2 linked regions of the Homo sapiens genome follow. The protein of the gene in region 2 purifies or fractionates together with the protein of the main gene of each other region. This does not show direct contact. Each region holds a gene or a part of one and is shown on either strand. Other genes may lie near its edges.

Region 1 (3,655 bases), on a different chromosome or scaffold from region 2:
ACCTCCTGGGTTCAAGCAATTCTCCTACCTCAGCCTCCCAAGTAGCTGGGACTACAGGTGCCCAACAGCACATCTGGCTAATTATTGTATTTTTAGCGGAGACAAGGTTTCACCATATTGACCAGAGTGGTCTCTAACTTGTGACCTTGTGATCTGCCCGCCTCAGCCTCCCAAAGTGCTTGGATTACAGGCGTGAGCCACTGCACCCGGCCCACTCTTACATTTGTTTTATATATGTCCAGTGTTTTTAGATGTACTTCATGGGAGGAATAAGGAAAAATAAGTCTCCATCTTTCCGCAAGCAGAAAGCCAAGAATCATCTTTTATTCTCAAATTGCATATGTGTAGGCCTATTTTTAAAGGAGAAGTAAGTCTTGCTTTACAACATAAAACAGTTACTTTGTAGTTTATGGAGTATGTTTTGTAAAGGAAAAAAAGAAACCACATCAAAAGCCTGTGAAAGCTGTCCTGATATGGCCTCAGAGAAAAAGGGAGACTCTATCTTCAGTTAAATGAAGCAAATAAAACCAGCAAAGGGTTTCCCTTCCCTCTCTTAAGAACTTCATCTGTAGAAACATTCTGATGCATTCCAGACATTCTACAAGTTCGTTACCAAAAATGCAGAGATTACAATATCACCTTTCCTTTCTCATCAAAATTATAAGTTTTGGATCACTGATTTTATCTCACTGGCTATTCCAGCCTCTCCGTAAGTTGCATGGTGTTCTCTTTGGTTTAGCTTGCTTTCTTCGCCACTTCACAAAATAGTCAATACCGCCGGCAATCTTTTTCTGCTGATCAACTACAACCAAATGTATGCATTTCCTACAATCACCTCCCTGGAACTTGGCACCAAATACAGATTTTTTCATACTGGAGTAATCTTATCATCTCTGTATTCACACCCTCCACATTTTTTCCCAGTGTCTGTATTGGTCCTATCACCACTTCCTTCCTTTCACACCACATCCTCCATGGAAACTCAGTCCTTGGCCCCCCCAAAAAAAAAAAAGCTCAAGACCAGAAGTGTTTCAGAATTCAGATGCTTTCAGATTTTGGAATATCCGCATATACATAGTAAGATATCCTAGGGATGGGACCCAAGGCTAAACTCAAAGTTCATTTATGTTTCATGTATACCTCATGCACGTAGCCTGAAGGTAATTTTTTTTTTTTTTTGAGATGACGTCTCCACTGTTGCCCAGGCTGGAGTGCAGTGGTGTTAACCTCGGTTCACTGCAACCTCCATCTCCCAGGTTCCAGCAATTCTCCTGCCTCAGCCTCCCAAGTAGCTGGAATTACAGGCACCCAACACCATGCCCAGCTAATTTTTGTATTTTTAAGAGAGACGGGGTTTCACCATGTTGGCAAGGTGGTTTCGAACTCCTGGCCTCAAGTGGTCTGCCCAGCTCGGCCTCCCAAAATGCTGGGATTACTGGCCTGAGCCACCACAGCAGGCCTCCTGAAGGTAATTTTATTTTGCCCTAGGGGATCCTGAATAAACTATGTTGCGCACCCACATTTTGACTACAACCTGTCTGTCACAAGGTAAGGTGTGGAAATTTCCACTTGTGTCATGTTATGGATTTTGAATTTTTGGATTAGGATGCTCAACCGGCGTAGCATAAATCTTATTTAAATGTTTAATCACCAGTTTAGGGGGTTTTCAGGTTGGTATCATGGGAAGAGGGACAAGGAAGTGGCAGGTGTTTGTAAAACTACTGAAATGGTATACCATGGAATCTAAAATAGACAGGAAGGGAAGTGAAAACAGAAAGAATTAATGGAGAGATACTGGAAGAAAGTTGGTGGACTGGCAGATCTACCAGAGGCTGAAGAGCTACTACAAAGAATTGCTGTAAGGCTCAAATGGATCAATAAATACAAAGAGTCACTAATCCTCATAACATCCCTATGAGACAGAGTTCCCAAATCCAATTAAGAGCCTTTCAACACAGTCATACATCACTTAAGGATGGGGACAGGTTCTGAGAGATGCATCGTTACGTGATTTCGTCACTGTGGGAACATCGCAGAGTACACTTACACAAAGCTAGGTGCACAGCCTACTCCACACCTAGGCTAGATGGCCCAGCCTGCTGCTCCTAGCCTACAACCCTGCACAGCATGTTACTGTACTGAATACTGCAGACAACTGTAACACAATGGTATCTATTTGTGTACCTAAACATATCTACACATAGAAAAGGTACAGTAAAAATAGAGTATTACAATCTTATGGGACCACCATCTTACATGAGGTCTGTTGTTGACCAAAACATCATTTGTTATGTGGCACCCGATTGTATTTAACAGACTAAACACTAATAAACTGATTATAGAACTGTAAAGAGAAAAAACAAACTTCTTCACTCCAAATATAACCTTCTTTAACCTCTATGCACTGTTTTACCTAAATACAAGCAAAGAGAAACCTGAGATTCCAAAACGTAATTATTTTCCTTCAAAATATTCACATTTACCCAATATTATTGGACAGATTACCATATTACAAAGAAGGCTTATGGAGATTAAATGTCCTTCTGGTTTTCAATAAAACATTATTTTCAAGAAACTATAAATAGTCCCCTCTAAAAATTCAATCTCTTTATCCTACCATGGATTTAACAGAATAAACGCTCCTTCTGAACTCCTGACTCATTTAGTCTGTCCAGTTCACCTGCCCTTAGTATATGTTGCCGTGTACGTAATACACCCCACTGCTTGTAAGCAGTCAGAACAACAGGCACACAGCTGTGATGCAGCACAGTGCTCTACACACAGCAGGCACTGGCCAAACATTCGACTAATTAATGAAACCCATAAACACACTGTGTTAGCAAGCTGAATTCCTCATCTTTAGAAATGCTGTAATATTGGGCCAGGCATGATGGCTCATGCCCGTAATCCCAGCCTTTTGGGAGGCCCAGGCAGGCGGATCACCTGAGGTCAGGAGTTTAAGACCAGCCTGGCCAACATGGTGAAGTCCCGTCTCTACTAAAATACAAAAATCAGCTGGGCGTGATGGTACACGCCTCCCATCTACCCTGGAGGCTGAGGCACGAGAATTGCTCCACCCTGGGAGGTGGAGGCAGTGGTGAGCTGAGATCATGCCGCTGCACTCCAGCCTGCGTGACAGAAATGCTGTAATATTAAACAGCATCAATGAACACTTAGCTTTCTGCTCTTTCTCAAAAGATTCTTTTATATATATATTTTTTGAGACAGAGTCTCGCTCTGTCGCCCAGGTTGGAGTGCAGTGGCGCGATCTCGACCCACTGCAACCTCCACCTCCCGGGTTCAACCAATTCTCTGCCTCAGCCTCCTGAGTAGTTGGGGTTACAAGCACCCACCACCACGCCTGGCTAATTTTTTGTATTTTCAGTAGATACGGGGTTTCACCATCCTGGCCAGGCTGGTCTTGAACTCCTGACCTCATGATTCACCTGACCCAGCCTCCCAAAGTGCTGGGATTACAGGCATGAGCCACTGCGCCTGGCCAGATTCTTTTCAATATTTCCAATATTAATTAATTTGTAGCTATAGAAATTATCATTCTCCTAAGTGTGTATAATTTGAGGAAGGCAGATAACATAACCAAAGTAGCTTGAAACAGCAATACGACAAATTCTTTTCTTTTTGACACAGAATCTCG
Region 2 (3,655 bases):
TCAGCTCATTGCAACCTCCACCTCCCGGGTTCAAGTGATCCTCTCCCCTCAGTCTCCTGAGTAGCTGGGATTACAGAAACCCACCATCATGCCCGGCTAATTTTTGTATTTTTGTAGAGATGGGGTTTCACCATGTTGGCCAGGCCAGTCTTGAACTCCTGCCCTCAGGTGATCCACCTGCCTCAGCTTCCCAAAGCGCTGGGATTACAGGTGTGAGCCACTGTACCTGGCCAACCAATTGTTACTTTCATATGAATCAAACCTAGGATAATAATACCTAAGATAATAAGGATTCAAACCTAATAAGGAATAAAACCTAAGATAATAAAAAAGTCCTTTCCCATTTCACGTCTGGAAATTTTAAAAATGACAACCAACCCCACCTACTAAATCATAATAACTCTTTACCTAGGAAGAATATACTTTTATAATGACTGCTTCTGCAGGATTATGATTGTAGGTCATGCATAATCAACTGATTTACAAAAAGTATGCCCAAATGAGGTTTAAGATTTACGGCCAGGCGCGGTGGCTCACGCCTGTAATCCTAGCACTTTGGGAGGCCGAGGCAGGCAGAGCATGAGGTCAGGAGATTGAGACCATCCTGGCTAACATGGTGAAACTCTGTCTCTACTAAAAATACAAAAAATTAGCAGGGTGTGGTGGCACTCGCCTGTAATCCCAGCTACTCGGGAGGCTGAGGCAGGAGAATCGGTTGAACCCGGGAGGCAGAGGTTGCAGTAAGCCGAGATTGCGCCACTACACTCCAGCCTGGGCAACAGAGTGAGACTCCATCTCAAAAAACAAACAAAAAAACCCAAAACAAACAAACAAAAAATTCACCAGGCATGGTGGCGAGCTACTCAGGAGGCTGAGGGAGGAGAATCACTTGAACCCAGGAGGCGGATGTTGCGGTGAGCAGAGATTGCACCACTGCACTCCAGCCTGGGTGACAGAGCGCGACTCCAACTCAAAAAAAAAAAAAAAAAGAGAAAGGAAAAAAGATTTCCACGGAATCCAGCATTAACTGGTAGAACAAAAATGAAGAGCTGGAAAATTTGAAAAATATACCACTTGTGAAATTTATATATACATACACACACACATATATAAAATATAAACTTAGGGATGTCAAAGGAACCCTTAATTATTAGTCAAAAAATGAAACTTCATTCATTCAACACTTGCTATGCACCTGTATTAGGTTCTGGCAATACAATGGTGAACAAGATAGAGCCAGTCTCAGCCTTCACAGATTCAAGAGCATAGCAGGAAACAGCAATAAGCAATTCTAGTACCACGTGGTAAGTGCTATAAAATGGAAAAGTCCAGGGTGTTATAAAATCACATAGTGGTGTGCTTAGGTAGAGAGAAGTTTCAGAAAAGATGAAATGACCTCTGTATTGTGATAAGGAGACTAAGAATCCATGAGGCTGGTATCAGGTTTTTTTTTTTTTTTTTTTAAATCAGGAAAATGGAGTACCTCAGAAGCAGCAGGAAAAGTTATGACATTTAGAGCACAATATGAAATACTGCCAAGGATTAAGATTGAAAAGTGTTAACTAAGCTTAGAGGGAATGTCATTGGTGTCCCTGATTGATTTTTTAAAAATGACTCAAAACAGATCATTTGGGGGAGAGAATGACTTCATTTCAAACAAGATGACCAATAACAACAGTTTATGCAGTCCTCGACCCTTTACTAAAATGTGTAGGTACATCTTCCCTTTCCTACTGTAGTAGGCTGGCTTAGATTATTGGTTCCTAACCATTTCATGTGGGCTAAACTCATTTCATGGGCTAAACATATTTAATGCTAAATATGAACACAAGAATGATGCATTTTTTATCATCAGATTAAATAACAATTGGACAAAAAAGTTACAATGAAGTCAATAATGCTTTTAAATAAGTGCATTTTTCTAGAAAATCACAGGATGTTTGAAAAAGAAGTATCTGGGACATTGGTACAGCCAGGATACCATGCTTGGAATATATGTGTGGTGGTCCCTCGTGATGACTCAAGCCCACAGATTGAGAAGCACTATGGATAATATGATCTTCTAAAAAGCCTTGCAATTTAAAATTTTTTTTTAATTCTTCAAGTTTAAAAAAATTACTGAAGCAAAATGGCACATCATGGTAGATTTTATAATAGTTCAAAATGGAATATGATCTAATACTTTAAGCACCTCAGTCTTAGACACTATCAACTGTGACTAAATGCTTTTCTTCAGTGATACCCCAATATTCCCATTAATTAAAACAACTATGAATATCCTTTGCACTTCCTTTACAAGTTTTTGCTATCCCAGAAAAAAGGTAATTGTGCACACTAATTGTAAAGGAAAATCTCCAACCCAATAGACAGAAGTCCAGTAATTCTATCAGATCATTTTACATTAAGGTAAACATAAGCCAAAAGACAAAAATACAGATTTTCCATTCTATTTTCTGATATCAAACCCTAAACAGACAATATTTGTCTATTTATTCATTCCTTTAAAAACTGTAGCTATTGCTCAGGTGGAGAAAGGACAGTTAGGGCATCAGGATTCTGCCAGGTTTCCATCAGTGAAAGCAAATGCTTCTGGTTGCGAAATCCACCGAGGATGCCAATTTAGAGGTGCTATTCAAATGTACAGCAGTTTATCCAACCACAGATAAGAAATTACAATTACTGATCAATTAATTACATTTAGATAGTCTAATAATAACTCTAAGGACCAGACTATTAAAAGAAGACAAAAGTAGTCTTTCAATATTTACTGGTCACCAACAGTTAAGATATAAATTTCCAGTTTAAAAAAATCACAAAGACCTTCCTATTGTTGCTTTACCAAAGAACAATCTAGTAATTCAAAGATTACAGGTGTAGGCCTACATATTCCACAAGATGGACAATGGTAAGTGCAAATGTTTTGCCTTATTTTATTTGGGGCCAAAAATAAATCATTTTAAAGCAGTTTAAGTTACACAAAGAGTCCAATCTTAAATTCTAATTTTTAACAGCAGTCAGGTGAATAAAAAGTTATTTGTGGTCAGGGGCAGTGGCTCATGCCTGTAATCCCAGCACTTTGGGAGGCCAAGGCGGGTGAATCACGAGGTCAGGAGTTTGAGACCAGCCTGGCGAACATGGTGAAACCCTGTCTCTACTAAAAATACAAAAATTAGCCAGGCGTGGTGGTGCGTGCCTGTAATCCCAGCTACTTGGGAGGCTGAGGCAGGACAATCTCTTGAGCCCAGGAGGCAGAGGTTGCAGTGAGCCGAGACCTCGCCATTGCACTCCAGCCTGGGTGACAGAGTGAGACTCCGTATCAAAAAAAAAAAGTTATTTGTAAAACTAAAAAACTCTGAAATATCATGAAATTAAAAAATCATCAGTGTTGATCCAGACAACGTGGAAAAGAGGAATTAGGACATCTAAAATGTGAAAAGGAGATGGCTAGGTTTTATCAAATACCAATGGTACAGATCCCCTGGGATGAGGTGGGGTGGCTGAAACCACAATGAAATGTTAAAATCTAGTTTCAGCCGGTGAGGTGGCTCGTGCCTGTAATTCCTAGCACTTTGGGAGGCCGAGGTGGGTGGATCACCTGAGGTCAGGGGTTTGAGACCAGCCTGGCCAACCAGGCAAAACCTTGTCTCTACTAAAA

What was found. The genes of interacting proteins can lie anywhere in the genome.
Region 1: the proteins of TOMM70 (region 2) and WDR37 purify together in Homo sapiens (co-immunoprecipitation; one large-scale study listed by IntAct). This does not show direct contact.

Annotation. Positions count from the first base shown.
Region 1 is NC_000010.11:1,059,363-1,063,017, reverse strand, and holds part of WDR37 (WD repeat-containing protein 37), read right to left. Parts: intron 1-3,655. UniProt on the Homo sapiens protein: Required for normal ER Ca2+ handling in lymphocytes. Together with PACS1, it plays an essential role in stabilizing peripheral lymphocyte populations.
Region 2 is NC_000003.12:100,394,571-100,398,225, forward strand, and holds part of TOMM70 (mitochondrial import receptor subunit TOM70), read right to left. Parts: intron 1-3,655. UniProt on the Homo sapiens protein: Acts as a receptor of the preprotein translocase complex of the outer mitochondrial membrane (TOM complex). Recognizes and mediates the translocation of mitochondrial preproteins from the cytosol into the mitochondria in a chaperone dependent manner.